Regions from separate parts of the Homo sapiens genome. Here region 1 is linked to region 2. The links come from fine-mapping of genetic effects on gene expression. A gene starts in region 2. The other region holds a variant in brackets. All regions are shown on one strand. Distances are from middle to middle. Region 1 overlaps TMEM276-ZFTRAF1 (TMEM276-ZFTRAF1 readthrough). Region 2 holds the start of C8orf82 (chromosome 8 open reading frame 82).

The links. PIP is the estimated chance that this variant, and not a neighbour inherited with it, causes the effect.
Region 1: its variant is the best candidate, but not a certain one, in a credible set for the expression of C8orf82 in whole blood (INTERVAL, PIP 0.77).

Annotation. Positions count from the first base shown.
Region 1 is chr8:144,454,906-144,460,061 of GRCh38, reverse strand. The region is part of intron 2 of TMEM276-ZFTRAF1 (TMEM276-ZFTRAF1 readthrough); the gene reads left to right. The region is part of intron 1 of ZFTRAF1 (zinc finger TRAF-type containing 1); the gene reads left to right. Among named protein-coding and RNA genes, the nearest start is that of MIR10400, 5.1 kb to the left of the region's middle. The variant CCATCCCCCCATGATGT/T (reference allele first, on the strand shown) is at 3,020.
Region 2 is chr8:144,527,115-144,532,270 of GRCh38, reverse strand. C8orf82 (chromosome 8 open reading frame 82) reads left to right here and starts at 3,160. Exons shown (of 3, transcript NM_001001795.2): 1 at 3,160-3,510; 2 at 4,199-4,247; 3 at 4,484-5,156. The coding sequence starts at 3,355. The coding sequence ends at 4,929. ARHGAP39 (Rho GTPase activating protein 39) reads left to right here. Exons shown (of 12, transcript NM_025251.3): 11 at 1,400-1,569; 12 at 1,655-3,092. The coding sequence ends at 1,849. RefSeq lists silencers at 2,194-2,293, 3,025-3,614, 3,625-3,674, 3,632-3,926, 5,054-5,156 and an enhancer at 3,655-4,511.

The sequences.
Region 1 (5,156 bases), 72 kb after region 2:
CTGCTCTGCTCCCTGGAGAATCTGGGCACAGATGGTGTGGGCCCCCACATGCTGCCTTCTGCGTGTCCCTGGTTGGGCCCATGCTGGCCATCACCCCAGCTTGGGTTCAGTCTACCATATTCTACTAGCTTTCCTTGGTGACCACGTTGATTGGCTGTCTCGAGCCAGCCAGTGTCAGGAATGCAGCAGGTTCCACCCTCTGTTCCTGCTAGAACGCTTTTCCTGACCCCAGCAGAACACATGGCTCAGGGTGGGCACCAGCCAAGCTGGGGGCTGACTTAGACAGTCCCTGACTCTGGTGAGAAGAGGGGAGTGGCCATGCTGAGCTTTGTGTGTTCTCCCTGGCACTGGGGCTGTGGGGGACAACTCCATGGGCCTCTGGAATTGGCTGGGTCCTCAGTAACTCGAGAGCTTGTCATCCAGATACCAGATGCCACCAGTGCTGGCAGGGAAGCCTCGGGTGGTGCCCCAGGTCTGAGCCTTTGGGCCTGCAGGGCCAGCTGACCCATGGGCCTGTGCCCGTACGATGATGCCTCACAGGCTGGGAAACCTGCTTGGGTGTCAGACTGAGGCCCTCATGCAAAAGGTTTCCGCCACCGCCGAGTCCTGCCTCACGTCAGGTTGGGGCTGCAGCCAGTACAGCAAGACTCAGCTTTTATGTTCTCTGTGTGGGTGTTAGATATGTTCTGGGGGACTGGCCTGACAAGGTGTGCAGCCACCTTCTGGAGTCTCAGGTGGGTGGCAGGAGGGCTGGTGGGGCAGCAGTTACACCTGTGCAGGAGCTTCTGGCCTGACCAGGCCGCGCAGGTGGTCAGGTCGTTCCTGCCGGCTCCCTGCTCTGCGGCCCGAGGGCAGTGTGGCCTGTTGGCACCTCTGCCCATGGGGCACCTCCTCTGGGAAGAGACAGCCTCAGCGGTGCCCGGGACGTTGCAGCCGCAGCCTCATCCCTGACTTCTCTCCCTCCATTTTGGCCCTTCAGACGAGGCCCAGTGTGATGCTGCGTAAGACAGACCTGGCCCTGACCCTTCCTGCTGCTGTCAGATGAGGCCCTGGGCCTTGGTGCTGGCACCTGGAGGAAGGGACTGCGCATTGTTCCCACCCCTCATGGGGCATTCTTAAGGCAAAAACGGGCTCACTCGGGTGTAAGTGCCGGGCAGGGGCCTCTCACAGATGTGGTCCAGCCGCTCCCTCTAACTCGGCCCTGCACAGTGCCCTGCCATTCCCATGCTCTCCTGCCTGAGGTGTCCTCTCCCTGCCCCTGCCCACCTCTTGGGCCCGGCAGAGGCAGCGCCCCCACTTTGAGACTTTGTTCTCTCCTTGCTACAAGGATCCCCTCCTGCCCCATCTGACCAGGGTGTGTCCACTCTGTTCTGTGGGTGGGTTGGTGTGTGCCGTGGCCCTCCCGCCTGTAGCGCCCATGTCTCTATGCCACATGTTGACAGTCCATTGATAACAGCCCAGGAAGCAGAGATGGCTCCTCTCTGCCCGAGCCCCACACCCCCAACCAGGCCAACAGTGTGCAGTCCTGGGGGGGTGGAGTCACCATCCACATGTCCAAGGAGCTTCGGGCCCCTCTTCCCCAGTCTCCTGGGCAGCAGTACAGGACTGCAGCTGACTCGTTCTTTGAGGTGAGGAAAGTGGCAGAAAACATCTTTGTAAATACGTCTGCTTAGGTATCTAAAACACAGGAGCAAGGAAGATGTTCTGGAATCTCTGGCTAGTTGGAATTTTTGTTTTCTGTGGTGGTTATCATTTGAGTTACTTTTAGATCTAAGCAGCCTTGTTCTGAATGTGGGCCCGACTCTGGGGATTGATTGGCCACCGTTTGAGGTCTGACAGCAGTAGCAGGTGAGGGACTTCAAATCCAGCCTGGGTGGAGGGTTCGAGTCCTGGCTTCATGCTTAACAGCTGTGCGGCCTTGGACAACGTGCCAGTCCCTCTCAGACCCATGTTTGATTCGGGAGGTTAGGGGCCGAGCACGCGGGGTGCATGGGGTGTGCCCTGAAGCACCACTGGCCCTGGTGAGGCCTTGCCTGCATGCAGATGGCAGAGGAAGGGGGACCTCCAACTGGCTGAGCAGCGCTTTTGGGGTTTGTGCCACAGGGAAGCCCTTTGGCTGCATTTTGGCTCTGACGACCTCTGTCAAGGGCCTGTGGGTCCCTGACCCCTGGGTGAGCGAGGGCACTGCTCCCATGGGCCTGGGCACTGTGCCATCCTCCAGTGGCAAACAGGAGGTCCCCAGGGTCTGAGAGAACCATGCAGTCCAGGTGTGAAAGGGGTCCTACAAGGTCAGCTGACCATAGAGACCTTGGGACCACCAGGAAATCGTGGGGGCCCTCAGCCAGGGGATGGGGTCAGGGCTCCTTGAGCCTGTTCCGCCCATCTAGCTCCCCTTTAACCCCAGGGAAGAAGTAGCTCAGGTGGAGACCCTGGGTCTGCATGGGGGTCACGTGAGCTGCCTGTAGCCAGCAGGGGGGAGGGCTGGGTGCTGTCCTGAGGATGCAGGTGCAAATGGCCATTTCTGGGCCACCTGTGTGTATCAGCATCTGCAGAGGGGCCTGGGGTCTGGCTCCTGGGGTTGGCAGCCCCAGGGGCTCTGCCATGGCTGCCCAAGGTGGTGATATTTCCTGTCTGCCTGTTGGGTGTGGGGCAGTGCCACCCTGTCCCATCCCACCTCATCAGCACAGAATGAAGCTGGTCCTATACTCATCACCTGTGCACATGAGGAAACTGAGGCCCCAAGAGGGGAGCCCAAGGTCATATTACTGGGGATCTGTGGGCTGGCGTCTGAGCCCAGCACTGTGGCTTCAAGCCCACATCTGCCCTAGGAGGGCCCAGGAGGCCCTGTGATGTCATTCCCCCGTGATGTCATTCCCCCATGACATCATTCCCCTGTGATGTCATACATGTGACGTCATTCCCGTGCTGTCACCACATGATGTCATCCCCTGTGGTATCACCTCTGTGATGTCAATACCTCTTTTAATGTCATCCCCATGGTGTCATTCCCCCCATGATG[CCATCCCCCCATGATGT/T]CAGTCCCCCATGATGTCAATTTCCCACAATGTCATCCCCTGTAATGTCAATACTCCCTTTGATGTCATCCCCGTAATGTCATCCCCTGTGATGTCATTCCCTCATGATGCCAGTGTGATGTCATCTCTGTGATGTCATTCCGTGATGTCACCCCCCATGATGCAATTCCCCTGCAATGTCATGCCCCTGTGATGTCATCCCCCGGTGATGTCATCCCCCCATGTGATGCCAGTCTCCCATGATGTCCCCCCTGTGATGTCATTCATGTGACATCATCCCGTGATATCATTCCCGTGATGTCTCCCCCATGATGTCATTCCCCATGTGATGTCAATTTCCCACGATGTCACCCCTCTGACATCATCCTCTGTGATGTCTCGCCCATGATGTCATCCCCCATGGCGTCATTCTTGGTCGTGGGGGGTTGTGGATCCCCTCCTCTCCCCTCCCTTGGGGTCTTCCTGGCTGGTGGGGAGAGGTGGCCTGGCCTGGGTGCCACAGCAGCTGCTCTGGAAGGTGCCCGGGCTCTTGGGGGCCTTGGCCCACGCCATCCCCTGGACTGTGCGGCGCCCTCCAGGGCCCAGCTTCTGTTGGGTGTTGGGCACAAGTCAGAATCAAGTGCATCTGGCCAGATGCTGCCAGGGCCAAGGATGCAGCTGCCTGTGGCCTGGCCTTGGTGTAGAGCCAGAGTCTTGCGCAGGGGCTGAGGGGACCCAGATGGTGGGGAGGCTCCGGAGCATGTGACCAGGGACCGTCCTGCTGTGGACAGACCTCCTGGGCTGAGTGTTGGTCGGGACCGGGCCATGCACCTAGAGATGTCCTTTGACCAGTGGGGAGGGTCTGGGGGTGAGTGTGGCTGTGTCCCTTGGCTACTGGGCCAGTGTAGTCCAGGGCACTCTAGGGACTCCCTGTGTTCTGACTTGAATGGAGCTATTGGGGCTGAAGGGGCAATGGCCCTGTGTCTCCTCGGAGCTTGCAGGTCCTCTTGGAGGCCCAGAGAGAGCCAGAGGAGGGCAGGGTCACTGCTGCCTCCTCATGGTATGGAATTGACTGAGCCCATGCTGGGATCTGGAGGCCCCAAAGGAATGAGGCCTGTGGCCAGGGGCCGGCCCAGGAGCTGGGGTGGCTTTCGGGGGAGAGGCCCGCAGTGCTGGGAGGTAAGTGGTGATGTGCTTGGCAGCCTCAGTGCTCCCTTAGGAGGGTCTAGGACCCCACCTCGAATCTTCCTGGGCTATGCAGAGCCAGGAAGAGAGGCCAGGTGGCCTTGGTGGGTGGCATTAGATGCTCCAGCCCTGCCTGGAACTCCCTTGGGGGTCGGGCCACAGCCAAGAAGAGTGCTGTTTTGCCTGTGCTAAGGCCACTGTACGTGCAGAGCTGGACCCAGAACCTCGTCCAAGGCCCCCGGCAGTCTCACCAGGAGGTGTTTAGAGCTGGCCACGTGGAGTGGCATACCTCCGGGGGGCGGGGGGCTGTGAGAGGACAGTGGTGTGGGCCCTTGGTCTGTGCCTCCCACAGGACAGCTGCTTCAATAGCATCTGTGCCCCCTCCTGCCTGTAGTCCACCCACCACTGACCCCTGGACTTGGCTGGCGGATTTTCACACCTTCTCCTGGGGGCAGGTCTCAGCTTGTCCCCAACCCAGTCAGAGCCAGTCTCACTCCCTGCCTCAGGCAACTGTGTATGTTTTAATTTTTATTTATTTATGTATTCATGAGATAGAGTCTCACTCTGTCTCCCAGGCTGGAGTGTAGTGGCACCATTTCGGCTCACTGCAACCTCCGCCTCCCGGGTTCGAGCCATTCTCCTGCCTCAGCCTCCTGAGAAGCTGAGATTACAGGCGCTCGCCACCATGCATGGCTAATTTTTGTATTTTTAGTAGAGATGGGGTTTCACCATGTTGGCCAGGCTGGTCATGAACTCCTAACCTCAGGTGACCTGCCTGCCTCGGCCTTCCAAAGTGCTGGGATTACAGGCATGAGCCACCGCCTGTAATTTTAATTTTTAACCAAACTGAGAACTTGAGGATTGAATGCAGGTAACGGGTGGTGTTCATGTGGATGTGGATTCCATGAAAGAGGGCTTTGTCCTCACTGTCGGTTCTCCACATGTAGGTCCTTTGAC
Region 2 (5,156 bases):
CTGGCTCAGGCAGTGGTTCTCAGGGGCCCCTGTCTCCGCCTCTGGGGTCCACCCTGATCCTGCCCAGTGATGTGATGGCTTCCCAGTCACTTCTAGCACATCCTCCCTTCTGCCCATTGGACAGTTTCCCCAGGTGTCTGCTGGGCACCCCGAGGCCTACCTGTGCAATGCAGCCCACTCCCCACCTGCTGCTCCCTGCCCTGTGCCCTTCTGCCGTGCCTGCTATGTCTAGCCTACTCCCCACCTGCTGCTCCCTGCCCTGTGCCCTTCTGCCGTGCCTGCTATGTCTAGCCTACTCCCCACCTGCTGCTCCCTGCCCTGTGCCCTTCTGCCGTGCCTGCTATGTCTAGCCCACTCCCCACCTGCTGCTCCCTGCCCTGTGCCCTTCTGCCGTGCCTGCTATGTCTAGCCCACTCCCCACCTGCTGCTCGCTGCCCTGTGCCCTTCTGCCGTGCCTGCTATGTCTAGCCCACTCCCCACCTGCTGCTCCCTGCCCTGTGCCCTTCTGCCGTGCCTGCTATGTCTAGCCCACTCCCCACCTGCTGCTCCCTGCCCTGTGCCCTTCTGCCGTGCCTGCTATGTCTAGCCTACTCCCCACCTGCTGCTCCCTGCCCTGTGCCCTTCTGCCGTGCCTGCTATGTCTAGCCCACTCCCCACCTGCTGCTCCCTGCCCTGTGCCCTTCTGCCGTGCCTGCTATGTCTAGCCCACTCCCCACCTGCTGCTCCCTGCCCTGTGCCCTTCTGCCGTGCCTGCTATGTCTAGCCCACTCCCCACCTGCTGCTCGCTGCCCTGTGCCCTTCTGCCGTGCCTGCTATGTCTAGCCCACTCCCCACCTGCTGCTCCCTGCCCTGTGCCCTTCTGCCGTGCCTGCTATGTCTAGCCCACTCCCCACCTGCTGCTCGCTGCCCTGTGCCCTTCTGCCGTGCCTGCTATGTCTAGCCTACTCCCCACCTGCTGCTCCCTGCCCTGTGCCCTTCTGCCGTGCCTGCTATGTCTAGCCCACTCCCCACCTGCTGCTCGCTGCCCTGTGCCCTTCTGCCGTGCCTGCTATGTCTAGCCCACTCCCCACCTGCTGCTCTCTGCCCTGTGCCCTTCAGCTGTGCCTGCTCTGCAGACACCCCCTCACGGTGGCTACACAGACGACTCCTGAGAAAAATCCTGTTTTGCACAACTCTGCTGGCGTGACCCACATGCCTCCAGGATCGAGTTCAGGCCCCCAGGAGCCGAAAGGCCCTCTGGGGTCAGGGCCCAGCCTGGCCAGATGGGCCCTGTCCAGAATGAGCCGGCCCTCCCAGCCTGTCCCCCACAGCACCCCTCCATGCATGTCCGCCACGGGACCCCATTTGGCCCAGGGGTGCCCGCCGAGCAGGGCCGCTGAGCCCCGTGCTGTGTCCCCAGCGTCCCTGCTGAAGCTGTGGTACCGGGAGCTGGAGGAGCCCCTGATCCCGCACGAGTTCTACGAGCAGTGCATCGCGCACTACGACAGCCCCGAGGCGGCGGTGGCCGTGGTGCACGCGCTGCCCCGCATCAACCGCATGGTGCTGTGCTACCTCATCCGCTTCCTGCAGGTACTTCCCTCCCCGGGGGTCCCCGCTGCTTTCCCCTCCCCGCCCCGCCCCCGCCCCTCCGCGCCCACCCTCGCTCCTCCACCAGGTCTTCGTGCAGCCGGCCAACGTCGCGGTCACCAAGATGGATGTCAGCAACCTGGCCATGGTGATGGCGCCCAACTGCTTGCGCTGCCAGTCCGACGACCCGCGCGTCATCTTCGAGAACACCCGCAAGGAGATGTCCTTCCTGCGGGTGCTCATCCAGCACCTGGACACCAGCTTCATGGAGGGTGTGCTGTAGCGGGGGCGCCCGGGGACAGGAGGGATGTCCTGCCGCCCCCAGCCAGGCCGAACTCCGCACTCGCTCTCCCGGCAGAGGGGCCAGAATCGCCCGGCCCAGCCCTGGAGCCCCCTCCACTCCCCCAGGCCCCTGGCCCCGGCGCTCCCCACGTCTTCTGCCTGGTCTGAGGGTGCAGCCAGGGCACAGCAGCGGCGGGGAGGGCGCCTCTGGCCCCCCACCTCACGGCCAGTTCCCGCGGGCACCGCCTCGCCCTCCGCTGGCCGCGGGTCAGCTCCGAGAAAGTGCCTTCTGTGTCCTGGAGCCGAGCGACGCTGCCTCCTTGGGGCCGGGCTGCCTCCCTGTGGCTCCTGCGCGCCCTGGCCTGGGCCTTGCCCAGCCGCCCCGGTCTCTCCTTCCCTTTCTCCTGTCCTCGTCCTGGCCTGCAGCTCTTCCCAGCCCCGAGAGAGCTTCCCGACCTGTCCCCGCCTCCTCTCCCTCCCTCGGCCCGTGGTCCCCAGCTGGTGACTGCTCAGGAGTTTGGGGGCTCCAGGACAGTGGGCCCGGGGCCTGGCAGGCTCTCGGTGGGTGGGGTGGGGGCCCCCAAACCAAAGTCCTCTGGGGTAGGGAGCAGGGCTGGGCAGGCATTCTGGGGGCAGGGTGGGGGAGGGGCGAGAGTATTTTTTTCTTCGTGTAACTGTAAATCCAGAATCTATCCTGCATCGCAGCCCACCGTGTATAGAGATATAAATAGAGGGAAAGATATAAGAACTAAATTTGCTAATGACATAGTTTTAACCTAAATGCTATTTATCTCTGAGCCGTCCCCGTCCTCCGTGCAGAGCAAGTTGAGGTCATTCCTTCTTTTCTTCTCCGATCTTTTTTCTTGGCTTCTGACCAAAAACCAAGCTCTACCCCATCCCCATCCCAGACCTGCAGGAGACGAGCGAGCGGGAAGGCGCCGGGCCCGGGACTGTCCGTTCTCGGGGCCAGAGCTGCTGGGGGACCGAGTTTGTACATTTTCCATTTTGGAATTTTGAGTTCCAATTGTTGTAAAACTTAATTTCTCCCCAGTTTTTATATATATATTTTTTAGAGTTCCGTTTTTATTTATTAAAAACAAAAGCCCCAGCCCTGCCGAGGCCTGGGCGGCGTCCTCAGTCGGGTGGTCCCGGGGCCTTTGCGGTCCCGCCCGGCTGAGACGCTCGCCCCGACGCATGGACCCGAGAGGCGACGACACGAGTGAATAAAGTGCACATGGACCCTGCGCGTCCTCCCGTTCCTTGTGGGCGCGGCCGGGGGCGGGAAGAGACGCGGGGCGGACCGGAAGGGGCGTCACCGGCACACGCCTCTCGGAAGGCCAGGGCGGGCGAGCCCCCGAGGCCCGAGGGAGAGGGAAGAGCGCCGGGCCCGGGTCGCGGAGGCGGGCGCCGCCGGAACGCGAAGCGCGGGGCTACTGCGGGCAGGCGCGAGTTCGCGCAGCACCGCCCCCGGCGTGACCTGCTGGTCGCTTCCGGCGCGGGAGGAGAATGTGGCCGCCTTGCGGGACGCTCCGGACCCTGGCCTTGGCGCGGTCGCGGGGAGCCCGGGCCTGCAGCGGGGATGGGGGCGTTTCCTACACGCAGGGCCAGAGTCCGGAGCCGCGGACCCGCGAGTATTTCTACTACGTGGACCACCAGGGCCAGGTGGGCGGGGGCAGGGCCGTTGCTCGAGAGGCGGGGCCGGGAGAGGTCTCTGGGCGGGGCGGGGGGGGGGGCGTGGCTCTGTGGGCGGGACCATTGCTCGAGGGGCGGGGCCGGAGGGACGTTCCAGGGGGTGGGTGGGTGGGCGGGGCCTGCGCGGTGGGCAACCTCGACTCCTCAGAGCTGGAGGAGAGCGCGCTGGAAAGACGGGGAGTTGGGTCGGTCCGGGCCGAGGCTCCTACATGGGCCGCGTCCCTGCTGCGTTGTGCAGCTTCGGACTCTGTCCTACAAGTCCCCAGCCCCGGCGCTGACTTCTCGCCGCTGCCAGGGAGACACCCGGGCCGCCCTGCCTTTTTTTGGAAGCCCTGTCAAAAGGCAGCTGCATGTCCGGGAGGCAGCAGGCCAGGTAGTCTCCGCGGAGGAGGTGGTACAACTGATTACAAACTTGAAAAGAGGGAAAAGGTGCGGGAAAGAATTGGCTGACCAGGGAGCAGAGGTGCGCATAGACGCGGATAAGTCGGCGGGGCCCCCAGGTTTACCTTTCACGCGCCTCCCTGCATGCGGTGTGCACAGACAAGCAGGAAAAGTGGGCTCGGGCCGGTTCAGGACCTCCCGAGCTTCAGGACCTCCTGAGCTTCCCCGCCCCCACCTGCACGCTGGGACTTATCACGGCCTGGCCCTCTATCTGCAGCTTTTCCTGGATGATTCCAAAATGAAGAATTTCATCACCTGCTTCAAAGGTAATGCTGTGCCTCCCTCTCCAGCCCCTTCTTTCTCCCTTCCGGGCAGCCCCTGATGGGCTCCCCGACTCTGCCGACGGGCCCAGCGCACCAAGGAGTGGGCGTCCTGCGCTCAGGAGCCCCGCTGAGTGAGGCCAGGCGAACCTCTTACCGTCGGCGCCTGCCCTCGGTATGGTCCTGGGCCCGGAGGCCTTGGGAGCCCAGCGCGCTGAGTACACGCACCCTTCATCCCCCAGACCCGCAGTTCCTGGTCACCTTCTTCTCCCGCCTGAGACCCAACCGCAGCGGGCGCTACGAGGCCGCTTTCCCCTTCCTCTCGCCCTGCGGCAGAGAGCGCAACTTCCTGCGCTGCGAGGACCGGCCGGTGGTCTTCACGCACCTGCTGACCGCGGACCACGGGCCTCCGCGCCTCTCCTACTGCGGCGGTGGCGAGGCCCTGGCCGTGCCCTTCGAGCCGGCGCGCCTGCTGCCCCTGGCCGCCAACGGGCGCCTGTACCACCCGGCGCCGGAGCGTGCGGGCGGCGTGGGCCTGGTGCGCTCCGCCCTGGCCTTCGAGCTCAGCGCCTGCTTCGAGTACGGGCCCGGCGCGCCTGCGCTGCCCTCGCACGTGCGCTGGCAGGGCCGCCGCCTCGCCCTCACCATGGACCTGGCCCCGCTGCTGCTCGCGGCTCGGTCGCCCTGAGCGGGGCCAAGGGAAAGGCGGGAGGCCGCGGGCGCCTCTCGCCCCGCTCCCCCGGGACTCCACGCCCCGGAAAGCCCGCGCCACCCGCGCTCGCGGCAGCCTAGTGCGCCTGCGCGCTCGGCCCCGCCCCCACCCGGCGCTGTCCTTGGTGCTGCCGCGGCCCGGCCCTCCCGGACACCCCGCTCCCCACGGCGCGCGCCCCCCGCGCACCCGACTCCGGCGCCCTC